Regions from separate parts of the Homo sapiens genome. Here region 2 is linked to region 1. The links come from fine-mapping of genetic effects on gene expression. Tissue or cell type: whole blood. Region 1 holds a variant in brackets; the other region holds the start of a gene. All regions are shown on one strand. Distances are from middle to middle.

Region 1 (8,331 bases):
CTCCTTAAGAAGAGCCTCAGGCAGGTCCTTCAGTGGGTGTTCCAGAAGATTGTTGTCATAGCAAATGACAGCTCCATGCATGCTATTTTCCCTGAAGACCATGCAGTGGGACAAGCTGTGCAGATGGAAGACAGTGACATCGATGACCCTGACCTCCCTGTGTAGGCCTAGGCTAATGTGTTGTGTGTGTCATTTTTAACAAAAAAGTTAAAAAGTAAAAAATATTTTAAAATGTTAAAAATAGAGACTTACAGAATAAGGATATAAAGAAGGAAATATTTTTGTTCAGCTGTACAATGTACTTGTGTTTTAAATTAAGTGTTACAAGAGTCAAAGTTTTAAAAAATCAGTTTATAAAGTAAAATTAGTTAGCTAATGTTAATTTATTATTGAAGAAAGAAAAATATTTTTAACACATTTAGTGTGGCCATAGTGTACAGTGTTTATAAAGTCTACAGTAGTGTACAATAATGTCCTAAGCCTCACATTCACTCACCATTCACTCACTGGCTCACCCAGAGCAACTTCCAGTACTGCAGGCTCCATTCATGGTAAGTGCCCTATACAGGTGTATCATTTTTTTATCTTTTATACCATATTTTTACTGTACCTTTTCTATGTTGAGATATACACATACTTAGCATTGTGTTACAGTTGCCTACGGCATTCAGCACAGTAACATGCTGTACAGGTTTGTAGCCTGGGAGCAGTAGGCCAGACCACACAGCCTAGGTGTGTAGCAGGCTCTACTGTCTAGGTTTGTGCAAGCACACTGTGATGTTTGCACAGCCACAAAACCGCCTAATGATGCATTTCTCAAAACACATCCGTGTCATTAAGCGACGCATGACTGTATTTAAAAGTATAATGTGTAGCCAAGAGAAAGATAAATTTCCTTGGAAAACTTAGAGTAATCATACCCATTATCATTATGGCTTTAAAATTTAAATAAAAATTCTAACTTTCAGTGGTGCCTGAGTGTATAATAAGAACAGTGTCTGTTGGTTTCCAGTACTGTTTTATAAAGAAACAGGGCAGTGAGTCATATTGACTGATAGATTTCTTGGCTAAGTATCTCCTTACTAGCAAGAGCATGGACTGTCTGCCCCTCCTGCTGCTTCTGAGCATATGCTTCTTGGGAAATAGAATTGGTAATTGCTTGCAATACAAACTAAAACAAAAAACAATAAAATTTATATTTTGTTTTTCCTCCAGTTTCAGATACAAAAATGTCTTCTCAAGATCAATGCTCCAGTCCTTACATAAGGCCATTTGATTTTGCAAAATGTCTTAGTAAATATTTCAGAAACCCTAGATACTCAGGCTATCTTAAATTTAGGGCTGTGTCCCGCTGAGGAGAAAATATATTAATTTGGAAGTATAATTAACATTTTTGTGTCTTTTGTTTCCCCTCCCTAGCATTACAACACCTCCTTGCTTGCCGCTGCAGCAGCAGCAGTTTCAGATGATCAAGACCTCCTACACTCGTCTCGGTTTTTCCCGTATACCTCCTCACAGATGTTTCTTGATCAGTTAAGTGCAGGAGGCAGTACTTCTCTGCCAACCACCAATGGAAGCAGTAGTGGCAGTAACAGCAGCCTGGTTTCTTCCAACAGCCTAAGGGAAAGCCATAGCCACACCGTCACAAACAGGAGCAGCACGGACACGGCATCCATCTTTGGCATCATACCAGACATTATTTCATTGGACTGATTCCCAGGCCCTGCTGCTCCCATCCCCACCCCAGATCGAATGAACTTGGCAGAAAGAAGAGAACTTTGTGCTCTGTTTTACCTTACTCTGTTTAGAAAAGTATACAAGCGTGTTTTTTTTCCTTTTTTTAGGGAAAAAATTAAAAGAAATGTACAGAGAACAAAACTATATTTTCAGTTTTACTTTTGTATATAAATCTAAGACTGCCTGTGTGATAAAACACTTGTTTAAAAAAAAAAAGGAAAGAAAAGAAAAAAGAAAAACAAGCACCCACAAACCACCTTCAGTTCATTTTTTTCTGGATTCTGAAGATTTTTCATTATTTGTCCTATGGTTTTGGTTTTATTTGACTTCGATGGCATTATTTTATTTGCAATAACAGAAAAGGAATTGCATGTATGAAGTTTTCAATCGTGGGCTTTTCTTTGTTGTGGGGAGGGGGTCGGGGGATAGTTTGATTTCCATTTTCTGAAAACGACAGACTTGGATTCTGTTTGTGTGTGCATATTTTATCCAGCCTTAAGTTATAAAGCTCATCTGTCCCGCTGCATTCCCTGTGTATTTTCAGGACATGGCTCGTGGGTGTGTGTGTTCATTGTGTGCGTCTGTATGTATTTTTCTGTCATCACTGTTCCCTCTCCTCCCGAGTGTGCATTCAGTTAATATAATCAGTTGCTTGCTTCTTTCAAAGTGCTTTGAAGGTCTTGAACTCACGTGTGAGCATCTTTATCAACTATCCCAATTGCATGTTCTCCATCACATATTCTCTTATTTGCTCTGTACCCCCTGAGAATATGTTTTAGAGATATTGGAATAAAGCTGTCTGGGTAAGGAGTAGGCTTAGCCGACCTATGAATAATACACTTTAGTCTAGTTCTTTATTCTAAATCTGGATTGCCAGTATTGTGTATTTAAACCAAGTCTGTGAATACCTGCTTTTTTTGGCCACAGAGTAACAAGTTTTCATGTAAGATCTTCATACCAAAGTAGGAAGTAAAAATAGCTTAGAAAGCTCTGTCAGGTGTTTTGTGCAGCTGACAGAGGTAATGTTACATCACCTAAAAAAGAAAGATACACGGTCAGTTATCCTAAAAATAAATTGTTTGGAAAGTACAATGCACCACATTTTTGTAGAAGTCTACTATTTGATAAACAGTTGAAATTCAAGATGTGTTTGACCCTTAGTCATTTTTACTCTTTGGTTCTGAGTATACCTATTTTCTTAGCGTATCTGCCTTGTTTATCTTTTTCTTCACCTTTTAACAAGTATGACATAGGAAAGTCATTTTTTTTTAGAATTCATGGATCAGTCTGATCTACTCTTATTCATAATGGAACATGTAAATATACTGAAAACTGTTTTTCAGGAGAGAAATATGAGTTGGAGGGAAGGAAAAGTGGTTCTACTAATGTTCCAAAATCCTCATCAGAGAAGGTATGATGTTCTCAGGTGTGGAAAATATTTTTTAGTTGATTGAGAATGCAGGTTTAACAGAAGAGATAAGGGGCATAATGACTGCTGGTTTTCCAGACTGGATTTTCCTACCGCAACTATTAATGTTCTCAGAGTTGATGAGGACCACCTTTGTGTATACACTTGTAGTTTTAAACCTTGCATTGGTAACAAAATGATCAACTTTAATCCAGGTAGAATTCAAGATGGCTGTACTTCAGTTGTATGATAAAATTAATGGTTCTCATGACTTGTGTGGCATCTAAAAATAATGTTTTTATAGCATCTCTCTGCCACTAAATTGTTGACTTGAATTTTGGGAAAAAAAAAAGTTGGTGTTGATATGTATATGTGTGTGTGTATATATGTATTTATAAACAAGTGTGTTTGAGTAACAAGTGAGTTTCATAGTCTTCCCCTACGCATGTGTATTCCACACACAAATGGCTGAGTTATAGTCATAAAACAATTTGCAATAAAAAAAAAACCAAAACAGATTGTCAGTTAACCAGGAAACAGTTAATGTTTTTTAATGAATCTGGCATTATAGTGAGCAAATGTCGTATTAATTTAGGCTAATTTCTAATACTACCATAATTTGTGTCTAAATTTCTGTTGGGGTAGAAATTACTAAAATTGTGGGGAGTTTTTTCTGATTTTTACATTGCTTTAGGAAACATTTTTACTAATTCAGCTGTCTTAGGTAAAATGAATAGTTTTCTTCCTGTTTTTTTATGTGTCATTGTTAGTGGTCTCAGAATTCTGATCAGTAACTTTGTGTATGATGCTGAATTACAAACCGTTTGAATGATCCAGTTGAAAACGTATCCCTCTACTTTCTTCAGTTGTAGAAAAGGTTAATTTCCCTCAGTGTCCCACATTATACCAACCTAAGAGAAGAACAGGTAATAGGGAGAAATAAACATACGGTGGTTTCAGTGGTTTTGGTCATGTGTCCACAGGAGAAACTAACCATTCAGTTGTCTTAATTTTAGTTCGTTCTACCCTGTGAGGAGTTTGTTTCCATCAGTTGTTGACTTTCCAAAATGTTGCATTAAGTAATAGTTGTCACTCTGTTGGTCTCATGGTCAATATCAATCAGACTTTCATGATCTCTACTAATTATTAGTAGAGTCCTGTACTATGTCTGTAACTACTAAGTTTAAAGAAAAGCACATAGTCACTTCATCTCTTTTTTTCTTAGCCTACGCTCACTCCCCAACCCATCCCAACATTGACATGCTATCTGTGGACAAATAGCAGTTCTCAGAATCTAGTCAAGTTGCCATCATCCCCCTTGCCTTGGCCGTTCATAGTAGGTATGCATATGTTTGTTTCT[G/T]TACAGTACTGTGTGTGTGTGTGTGTATATATATATACATCTGTATGCACACATCTTTGATAAAATAGCTATTTGACTAGCAGGGTTAAAGTGGCTTTTAATTACTTCGTGAGTGTTATTGGATACATCTTAAAAAAAAAAAATCTGAACCAGAACCATGCCATACTTGGTTGACTATTTTGAGCATTAAAATTGCTTTACTAATTATTTAGACATGATCACAATTCTGTATCTTTACTGAGGAAAGATTCACGTAAGCTCTGAAAAATCGGATTCTTTGGCAGATTTTCCTTTGAGTCAAGTGTCTGAAATGGAGTGAAAATATATCCTAACTAAATTAATGTGGAAAGAGCATTTTTTTAGACAATTTCAATTTTAAACACATAAAACTTTCAAGATCTTCAGGACTTTTTAAAGCACATTTGAAATTATTTTAGTAAGAATTTTGTTTTATCAATAGATGTTGAATTCTGTTTTTTAATTAAATACAAAGCTTAGATTTCAGAAAGAGAGGGAAAATAGCTGGTGGTCCCAGAGTGTGCTGCTGTTAATTGTTTAACAAAGGGGAAAATGTACATAAACAGATAAAGTTACCATAAATTCCATGAACTTAAATCTGTGATTCATTGCCTTAAAACTTTCTCTCTTAGAATTTCCATACCGCATGCCAAACCAGTAAAATGGCTTTTAAAAATGTATAGTAGACAATGTCAGTTTGTATAAAAGTACCAAGTGAAAATATTTATTACATGCATTGGAAAAAAATTGTTTACCTATTGAATGTTACCTGTTTATGTAGAGCTCTTTAGATGTAATAAAAGAAAAGCCTTCAGTTAATTTGTCTTCTGTAAAATAACACTGCTGGATGTTCAAGGGGACAATCCCTATGAGACAAGTGATAATGGTTTGTGCTTCCAAAGCACCTTTCATCCAGAGATTTCAAAGCATGACAAGTAACTAACTAATTTTCTTGCAGCATGCTTTGAGGTAAGTAATGAATATAGCCATCATTTCCCTTTCTTGTTGAAATATGGCTAACTCTTTAATAAATCACAGCATCTGTTTAGTATCTGCAGTTTGAATGCTAAGAGCACCGTGGCCTTCTTGTAAACAACACTAGGTGCTAGAGAAACCAGCTGGAATTTCAGGAATGAGCTTGAAACCAGGACCAGGAGTAAGGTAACAGCCCTTCCTCGGGTAGAGGTTTGAATCAAACACTTAATAGGATCTTAGACTCTGGACCACTGAATCCCTTAATGAGCAGGGAGTCCGTGAAGAGGAGCCCCAGGTTCTAATGACCATTCCACACCAACTGTGTGTTTTTGGCAAGTTATATTTCAGATTCCTGTTAGGCAAATGAGATTCATAAAACTTGCTTTAAAACCATACTGGGACTATTCAGTGATAAATATAGACATAGAAAAGCTTTGACGGAAAGTACCCTCATTTATTATATCCAGAACTTGCTCTTCCTGTGCCATCTAAATCATTGGTATCTATCTCCCATCTAATCTTTGGTATTCCAGGTTGGCTGTGCAGGATTTACTTCCTAATGTCCATGACTGGAGCTCAAAAGAACTGTGGGCCTAGGACCTTTGAGCTTTGCCTGAAAGTGACAGCAGTTCTCTCGGCGGGGCCAGCATCTAACCGGCCCTCTGGTGGATTTACCATGAAGGTAATGAAGTTTAAGCACCAGGACCCTTCACTTGTTCTGGTCCTAGGAGCAGCCCCAGAAATTCTGCATTTCTGTTTTTGTATTCTTAAGGCAGCCAAATCTCGTAAACCTCAGACCCCACAAAACATCTGCTCCTACACTGTGTGGACCTGGGCTTCCCAGCCAGATGGTCACAACTTCACCTAGTTGGCATTTGGGCCATTTATTTACCCTCACCCCACAAAACTCTTTGGCTCCTAGGAATTCCTCCTCTCCTTGCAGTTATGCTTGGGGAAATGAGAGTCTCCTTCCTCAGGGCCTTGTTTGGGTCTGAAGCCACACAGCATCGTTGAGACAGTTGCACTAACACTACAACTCTTGTTCCCTGCAGTTTTCCCTGTGCCCGGTGCCTAGTGAAAGATTTGTGTCTTGTACATCCTCCCAAAAGACACATCCCATTTGATTTGGTTTTCTTCTACTTTAGCCACTGTGGTACTACTAGACAAAGCCACAGCCCAGAGAACCCACTTTTGATACATACATGGATGCAAATCTTTGTACTTGAAGCCCTGCACCCCTACCTGTGTTGGTGTGGTACTCCAGCCCTTTTAGGACTGTGCTGGCACTACGAATGATCCAGATTTGACAAGTGTATGGCACCTCTGAATCTCTGGCAGCACCAACCTGGCACCTTCTAGCTGTGTAACTCACTCAAAGCCACTCCAGCTGGATGGACTCCCAGAAAGCCTAGTGCTCCTACTACTGTTTTCCAGGGCTGTTGTACCCTGGCCATTGCTGGTTACATCCCCTTATTTCTCTCCGTAAGTCCTGGGGAGGTGGCTTAAGGCAATGACCAGTGTGGGCCACTTGAGCAGACCATCCCGGAACCTCTCTGCCTGTTAACAGAGCCCAGGGAACAGCTCGGAATTCTCACAGCATTGGAAGCCCCCTTCTTGAGCTCTGCAAGGCCAGTCAATTTAGCAGCTCACATCTGGTTTCCTTTGGTGTGGGGTGTAAAGTAGATCGCTCTTCCTGCTCTCAGCTGATGCTGCCTCATTGTAGCATGTGTTTTCACTCTAGTGTTTTCACTCTACACTCTGTGTTTATGAATGAATAGCCTGAGCTATGTCACTATATCTGTTGAGATGGAAATGAGAATTTGTAAATGGGCCTCTGGCACTGCAAGAATTGTTGTCATAAGTGTTACAGCTTTCTGTTCATTGCTGCTTCTCAGCTAGCACTGGCTTCATCTTGGAAAATCTTGGAAATATGGAAGATGGTTCTAGCCCCCAAATACAGAATAAGTCTCTTGGTAGATTGCCCTTAAGTCATCAGCTCAATCCTTCCTCAACAGGCTCCATGAGGTAAGAAGTGGGAATCCAGCTTGTGTGGGGGGGCTTTGAGGAGTGAAATGATTTGCCCAAAGTCACAGTGGGAAGCAGCAGAGCCAGGACTGGAACCCAGGCCAGACTCCAAACCGCAGGCTCCTTCCATGCTTGAAAGGGCCGGACTCACGGTAGTTAATAAAATCAATACAAATCTTTTATTAAAGATCTACTCATACCATGGCTGAAATCATCTATTATTGTTGCTAGTTAGCCTCTCTTCTATAGTTGGGTAATGTTGTCTTGCCACTGTGTTTGCCATCTCTCCCAAGTGAAAAGAACACTTTTTAAAAAAAATTAATTGCTCCAAGTTTTCAGGCCCAGGGGAGGCTCTCCCATTCTCCTCCTTCAATAGTCCCGTCCAGGAAGGGTGATCTTGTGGATAAATTCATCATACTTCACTTTGCCATTGGGTTCGATATCTGCTTCCCTGAAGAGATCATCCACTGCAATAAATCACATTTAATTTTTCAGTTTGGCTTTAGTGTTCCATTATAAAACAGTGAGTTTTTTGGGGACTGGAGCTCCCCTAAGGTCTTCCCTGAGCGTGCAGTTGACTATTCCTGTAGACCAGGAAGTAAACCAGTGAACAGAAAGGGACAACCCATCCCTGCACTCCTGAGACCCTTATTCCATTTTGAGCTAATCGGGCTTTCTGCAGGGGCAGGGAGTAGGGAGGTGTACTGGTAAGGATTCGGTCACTGATGCCACCGTGTGCTTTTTTTTTTTTTTTTTTAAAACAGTTTCGCTCTTGTTGCCCAGGCTGGAGTGCAGTGGCACAATCTCA
Region 2 (8,000 bases), 140 kb before region 1:
ACATACCTGAGACTGGGTAATTTATAAAGAAAAGAGGTTTAATTGACTCACAGTTCCACATGACTGGGAATGCCTCAGGAAACTTACAATCATGGTGGAAGGTACCTCTTCACGGGGTGGCAGGAGAGAGAATGGTTGCCGAGCAAAGGGGGAAGCCCCTTATAAAACCATCAGATCTCGTGAGAACTCACTATTACAAGCACAGCATGGCGGAATTCCCTCCCACCCCACTGCCAGTGCTGTTCCTTCATTCATTCATTATCAATTGAATTGATGCCGATTCAATTATATCCACCTAGTCCTGCCCTTGACACTTGGGGATTATTACAATTCAAGGTGACATTTGGTTGGGGACACAGACCCAAACCATATCATATATATATATACGTATATATATATATTCATATATATATACATATATATTCATATATATACATATATATGAATATATATATTCATATATATATTCATATATATGAATATATATATGAATATATATATATATAGCAATGTCATATTTTAAAATGTGCATGGAATCATAGAATGCCAATTTTCAAGTGTTCTCAGCTTTATAGTGAATAAAAGTAGTCACTTCCAGGCAGGCCCAGAAGCCTCAAGATATTAGATATTGCAGGCAAAGTCTGATGTCTGCCTTGGTTTGACTTCCTAACATCAAGAGGTTTTTAAAAGTCCAGATTTGTTGTCACAATTTCCAGCAAAATAAATTTAAAAGAAGCCTATGTGGTTATTCTTGCCGCACTTATGTAAATAATCAGGTCAAGTTTGAAACTAAATTAATTTTAAAAATAAATTGGTCTTACCATGATTATCTTTGGTAGAAATGGGAATGACTGTAGAGAGAAAAATTATGTTTCTGAAGAAAACCATAGTACACCTGTTACTAGATTGCAGCTTTGTTCATTGTTTTTGAGTTTTTATCATCTATCTATAGACTAGCCTGGATCCTGAGTTCTTGTTGCCTTCAATATCTGACTGCAATTCTCCAACCATGAACAAAAACTGCTAAGCTGAACAACTCGATATAAATTTCAAGGGACAAGTCCCATGCTTGATGAGGGAGCCACATAGAGAGTTTAGCAGAACACCTGATGCCACAGCCAGAGACATTTAAACTGCAAACCAGGATGAGAAATTGCTGACATCATGTTGTGGACAGCGTTTTCCAAGACTGTCAGAATAAGACTCGCTACCATGATAAGACTCCTTCCCTTCTTAATTTTTTCTTGCTTATGCCCACCTCTTCCACTTGGCAGGATAATGCTGTAGTTAAAATTTCACAATTAGTAGTTTTTGTGGGTAAGTTGATAAAGGGTCAAACCCAAACATTTACAGGACCCAAGAGAGCTTTTATTCCACCTAGTGGGTAACTTTAGCAACATCCCTAATGCAACTGTTTGTTCAAATTTTACTAGTGGCCTCTTTTGTAGAGTTAGCACTCTTTGCTTTAATTTAACCCATTTCTGAGATGCTAGATGATAGAATTGCTGCGTACTAACCAAACGGGGAAATCTGTGCTGTTGCTGTCACTTCTTGTTGTACATAAATAATCTGGTATTGTAGAGACTCAGTTTCAAAAAGTTAGCAGGCTACTTGGTGAAAACAGGTAGATTTCTCATCTGGCTCATTCTTTGATCTATTTGATTTTAGTTGGTTTGGTTTATGGCAACCCTAGCTAAGAAGCATACTCCGAACTCTTGGCATTGTCCTCCTGATAGTCACAATTCTCAATTATGTTCTCTCAAAAAGTTTTACATATTTGCATACAGCCAATTGTTGAATGTCATATGGTCTCTCTTCAGCTGCAATGACAGAAATACAAAATCATGAGGACACTGTAATCTATAAATGATGTGTTGAGACTGGAAACACAGAATGATGTTAAATGAGGGTAGTGCTAATGCCCTCAGTCTTAGTCACAATTTCACCTAGGTTGTTAAATAAAAATCATGGGATGCCATTGTTTTCAACCAAATTCCTGCATCAGGCCTCCAGATCAGACTAAAAATCAAAATGGTGTCACCCATGTTCACCAAAACAAAACTGAGTTATCTGGTTTTCCAAAAAATGGTAAGAGAGATAGCCAATTTTCCAAACAGAAGTTTCAATCTTTAACAGGCATGATAATGAAATTTCCTGTTTTAATCCTTAAAATAGAATACCTGAAGTAACCCAATGTTAACCAATCAGTTTTCTTTCTACTGTTCTGTCTCCACGTCTCCACCTTAAAGAAAAGTGACTTTGATATAACCAATCTGCTTTTTGTTGTTTCTGCCTTCTTCAGTCTATTTTCTGTCTCTAAAGTTAACATCCTCTGCTTGATTCATTGCAACATTTATTCTATTTTGTGGAATGAAGTTTTGTCCAATTCTAGGAGTGCAATAATGCCAATGAGATCTTGAATCTCAATTTGTTTTACTTTTGTTTCTTGACAATGGAGAGGTTTAGGCTAGAGAGCATTTTCAAAGTCATGAGCATATAGACTTCAAGTCAACCAGTTAGATGAGATCACCTGGTGATAAAATAGAGAAGAATGCAAGGACCGAGCCCTGGAGCAGTCCAACATTTAAAGATTGAGCCAAAGAGGAGAAACCAGCATATCAAAAAGGAGGCCCAGTGAGGGAACAGGACTATCTGTGACGTGTAGGTAAGTTCAGGGGGAAAAGTGTTTCAAATCAAAGGAACCATGTCAATTATTCGCGATTCTACAGAGAGGTCAATTGAGATATGGATAGAGAATTGGCAATTGCCTTTGGAAACAAGATCATTAGTAATCTTGATAAGTGATACAGATGATGGAAGCCAAAGCTCGATCAGGGTAGACTGAGAAGTGAATGTGAAGTGAGAGGTAGGAACAAGCACTATTGGAGAGATCTTGAAAAACCTTTCTAAGAATTTATGAAGATAGCAGAAAAATAGGGCAGTTCCTAGAGGCGATTTTGGAGTCAAAGGAAGTTTATTTTAGATGGGAGAAATTTCAATATATTTATATGCTGATAGGAGCAATTCAATTGAGAGGGAAAAAACTAACGATGCTGGAGGGTAGGTAATTGTAAGAGTAAAATCCTTAGGAATGTGCGTGAAAAAAATCCGGTCACTGGTAAAGGGACTGGCCTTCCTAGGCGCAGGGACACTTCATTCATAGCAACCCAAATGTTACTATGCAGATAAGGGTGGTTTTGATGGTGAGAAGATAAGGGAGTTTATTTCTGATATCTTTCATTTTTTCCATGAGTTATGAGGCAAAGTTGATTAGTAAAAGTGGGGGTTGGGGAGGAGGTATATAGAAGGCTTTCAGTAGAGACGAAAAGGAATGAAATAATCCTTCCATCAAGTCTACTTAAATGTCAATTTAGTGGATAAAACCCTCCCAGAATTAAGTACATCTCCCAAACCCTTTCTCTCTCTCAATGACCTTTTGCTCCTTTCTGGTACTCACTAACATTTGCAATTGTATCTTTGTTCGTTCACTTCTCTGATTCCCCATTAGAGAACTACAGAAGGGCACGGACTTTGATTTCAAAATGTATATTTAGCCGTTAGCACAAGGCAAGCAGATGGTCACTAAATAAATACTTTTTTAAACAAAAATGTTAATGAACACCTTCAAAATTTTGTCTTACGCCACCTCGTTAAAATACTTGTTTGTGCAAGTCACTTTTCCTCTCTGAGCTTTCATTTCTGAATCTATACCATGGGAATTATCTCTTCCTTGCCTACCTCCCCTCGTTATCAAGAGGATCTGAGCCAATAATGATAGAAATGCTTCATTAAGGGCCCCTTAAATGTAATGGATTTCTATTTTTAGCCCACTGGTAGCCTCGCAGGTAGCAGGTGCTGAAAAAGCCTTGCTTATTGGGGGTTGGGGGACAGCATTGTTTCTGTGACCGTAGGCGTCGAAGCTATGCAGAAGCGTTCCGCGGACCGCAGAGAGATGGGGCTCAGGCCAGCATCCCTCTCGCTCCGGCCCTTCCCGGGAGGAGCTGGCCGAGCTAGGATGGGGGGCAGGGAGACCGAGGGGGCAGTAACTGTCAAACCTCGCCGCTTGGCGCCATTATTTAAATGGAACGTGCCTGTCTCGCAGCTGTACGTGCCCGGGGCGGGGCTTCGAGCGCCCTGAGCGGGGCGGAGGCTAGAGGCGGGCTGGGAAGGTGGAGGGGCGGGCCGGGGCGGGGCCAGGCCGGCTAGAGGGGCGGGTCTAGCGGCGGCCCCCGGCGAAGTTCACTGCGCTTGCGCTGACAGACGCAAGATGGCGGACAGTGCGGAACTAAAGGTAAAGCGCAGCTCGAATTCACTTCTAATATTCGGCCGCGGAGACGGCGCCGCTGCTGCCAGGGGGGATGGGTCCGACCCTGGGGGGCCTCTCGGGCCTGACTCCACCCGGGCCTGGAGTTGTAGGGAGAGAGGCGCGCCCGGTCTCAGCAGAGGGGGCCCGCCTGCGGCGGGCCGCGGGCCCCGGGTGCCTCGGGGGCGCTGACGGGTCGTCCCCGGCGTGTTATTGTTGTGGGCGCCTCTGGCGGGGGTGGCGGGGGAAGAGATAGGGAGTCCGGAGGTAGGGGCTGCAGCTGTCTCATGGGCTCGGCTTTTTCACCTTCCAGTTAGCCTCCCTGCCCCCCATGGGGAGCTGGGGCTGGGGGCAGGGTGCTCTCGTAGGGGGGATTGGGAAAGCTCCCCGTGGCCGCTTCCTCTTCCTCCTTTGCAGTCCCGGGCTCCTGTCAGGCGCTCTTCTCAGACCCCCGGGAACTTGGCTTCGGCCGCCCCGCCCCTCCGTGGATCCCAGTAGCCCCCGCCCCGGACTCGGCTTTCCCCGGCTGCTCGCTTGTCAGGAAGCGCCTGGGGTGCCCCGCTTGTGGGAAGCGCGATCCCGGGGCGATAGGGTGGGGATCTGGGGGAGAAGCTCTGGTAAAGTTTAGCGAGCCCCGGGCCGGCGTTGGGGTTCGGCTGAGAGGTAGTGAGCGGGACGTTACTCTTTCTCTCTGATTCCGGGCAGCCGAGGGGAGAAACCCCCTCGAAGAGTGTGTCTTTGGAAGCAGTGTTGGGAGGGGGGGATGCAGCTACCTCTCTCCCTTCTTTTGCCTTAGCTGGTGTGGAGGGTGAGAGGAGCCTTTGGGGGTCTCTGCACACACCATGATGGCGATGCTGTAGCTGATGGAGGTGAATGGTTCGTGTTTATATCCCCCCATTGCCTTTTGTTTGTAGGGACATCTTGCTGGCCATGTTGATTTGAACGAAATTCTCCCCTCATGCTACTCCAACCCCCGATAAATAGAACGTTCCTCTTAACAGTACCAATTACTCACGCCTCACGAAATTAGATGAAAGGGTGCCCCCTTTTCCCCGCTTTTCTCCCACCCCAATCTTTACCTGATGATGGCTTCTTTACCGTAGCAGATATACCACTACACAAGCAGTTGGGGGAGGGGGTGGTGGAACCCTTATGACTGGATTGTGACAAATGGGGCTCCGCTTGAATAATTTTGGTTTAGTAGCAGGCAGTTCTTAACTAACGCGTATTATTTCGAGGCTCTGAACGCGATCTTCTCTGTGGCTTCCTGTGTGTGTGAACCCAGCAGCTGGTTATGTCTCGACCCAGAGAACTGACATCTCTGTCAGAGAGGAGATGGGGATATACAATTGTAAATCTTTGGGGAGAGTCTTCTTTTTATAATAAATAAAAATTATTTAATTTTTTCCCCGTTATAATGAAACGACAACTTCTAGAACAACCAAATGCCAGATTTGATTCTGTAGAGTTTTTCCTGTGGAATATCCTCACCGAAAGAGCTTTTCTCCTAATAACTTCACAATGTTTACACTCCAAGATTCGTATGTTAAGGTATTGGCTTTGAGTGTCATTCTTTTAAAATGTACTTCTAATTACAAATTTACTGAAGGGAGAGCAGATTTACAATGGATGGTTTTGATTTTTCCCCAGTTTCAAACTATTGACTGAAATGAGAAAGCCTTAGGAATTTGAATATTTGGAGATAATTAACCCTTGAAATAAAAAAAAGCACACAACTTTAAGACATGTTTTCTATAATTTTTCTCTTAGAGTCACTATGTTGCTGTGATCTTTGCCTTGTAATATTTATTTTGTTAGGAGTTCTTTTGAATGATAGCTAATCAGTTGTTATACATGGACCATAGAATAAAGCTGAAAAGCATGTGCAGACTATATTGTCACTCTTGATGCTGTCCAAAGAAACTAGTATGGAAAGCACATGCTGAGAGATTTCCTTCTTTGTTCTTTCTCATTTTAAGAAAGTGCCTTTGGGGATAGATCAGATCCCTGGTGTGAGTCTTGTTAGGTAAAGTTTCTCTTTACGAAAATGAACCAGTATCAGATAAACACCAAACACTTGAAGAAATGTTATTTTTCTAAAATTAATCTCGTTTTTTGTGCTCTCCCAAATCTACTAGAGTTTTTCCAGAGGAAGTTTTTTTTTTCTACTCTTATGTTCCTGTTGTATAATTTTTCAAATTATAATAACTGTTTTGACATGTTGGTATGTCATTGTGTGTGTCTGAGACTTTGAGGAGCTGTGTGATAAATTGCTTAGCTGGTGATAGCGGCGTTAAAAAAATTTGGTTAATACTTTATTGTGGTTAGATTTGCTGTTCTTTTTTTGAGGGGTGGAGGAGGTGATCTCAGGAACGCCTACCATAGTTATTTGAGAATGTGTTAAAAAAAAGAGAATGTGTATATATAATTTTCTGTGCAGTAAGGTTTGGCAGATACTCCTTTTGGAAATGATATTTTCTGAAGGCTTTTTGTTTGTGATTTTTTGGAGGTAAATATCATACATTCCTAATATGATAGGAAAAATCAGAGTAAGAAGAAAAAAATCTAGATTTTTTGAAATTTTAAATGGGAATAGAGTACTTCAACTGTGAAGCTTTACATAAAACTCAGTGACTTTTCATTATTTTAGGTTTCAGCCCCATACTTCATTTTGCTGTGGATTGTATTCATAATTATTTTCCTCATGGCTTTTTTAGTGAGTCCTTTTAAATCTATAAGAAATGTGCAAAGATCAGATGGGAAAAACAGATAGATCTTTATCCCCTGTAGGAATTGTGCAAGCTGCAACACTTCAAGATATTGCCAATAAAAATTAGATTGTGAGTCATACATATCAAAATGAATTCTCTATGCACATTTGTTTATGAAAGGTTTAATTTTTCATTAGGGGAGTACCCATAAATGTCATTTTTAAGAATGTGGAGGGTATTTTGTCATCTTTAGGAACTTAGAAGCAGGAGGGTGTGATGGCCAGATGATCTTGGTAGTTAATAAGCTGACAGCTTCATGAAACTCCTCTTAAAGTAATTTAAAAAAAAATATGTGTTTTTTTGGAGTAAAACTCAAACCAAGTTATAGTGCCATTTTAATTTACAGGAAGAAGAGTGGGAGAGAAGAAGTCCATCAGCATTTTAGTGGAGTAAATAATGAAATTAAATGGGAAGAGAAACCATAATTATAAAAGTTACTATGAGTGTGTCAGTGAATTCTATTGTTATTTTCTGCCTCTTTATTTTCAAGAAATAGCTACTTAATTTTGATCCTTACGCTGTAATTTGTCTGCTTTTATTTCAGATAGAGTCAAGTACATCTGATAGTTTATTCATGGATTTGATTTGAATCTCTATAACTTGCTTTTGTCAAGTGCCACATTTAGATGGCTTTTGTTTTATGTCATTATTTTTATCAACAGTATTTTAAAAACTCTACAGTATAGTTTATAAAATACTACGTATAGTTTCTAAGTATTTCATATGATTGTTTTGAAATACCTCCTTCTTTTCATCCACCGTTTTCTCCTGGGCGATCCCATTGTCTTTTTCTTCAAAGAGTTTCTTGTAATCCCTGTTGATTGCGGTAGTGCTTAGTGGCGAGTCCATAGCTGATTAACCTTGGGTGTCTCCTGGTGAACTCCATCAGCATGCTGCTCCAGGGTTCTTGCTGAGGCTTTTGAGTT

The links. PIP is the estimated chance that this variant, and not a neighbour inherited with it, causes the effect.
Region 2: PIAS1 starts here. The variant in region 1 is fine-mapped to the expression of PIAS1 in whole blood (TOPMed, PIP 0.95).

The regions. Positions count from the first base shown.
Region 1 is chr15:68,186,123-68,194,453 of GRCh38, forward strand. It overlaps PIAS1 (protein inhibitor of activated STAT 1), which reads left to right. Exons shown (of 14, transcript NM_016166.3): 14 at 1,420-7,725. The coding sequence ends at 1,713. It overlaps CALML4 (calmodulin like 4), which reads right to left. Exons shown (of 5, transcript NM_033429.3): 5 at 4,583-7,990. The coding sequence ends at 7,893. It overlaps LOC105370871 (a long non-coding RNA gene), which reads right to left and starts at 1,424. Exons shown (of 2, transcript XR_932396.3): 1 at 1-1,424. The variant G/T (reference allele first, on the strand shown) is at 4,506.
Region 2 is chr15:68,050,060-68,058,059 of GRCh38, forward strand. It overlaps PIAS1 (protein inhibitor of activated STAT 1), which reads left to right and starts at 4,256. Exons shown (of 14, transcript NM_016166.3): 1 at 4,256-4,291. The coding sequence starts at 4,268. RefSeq lists a silencer at 4,055-4,554.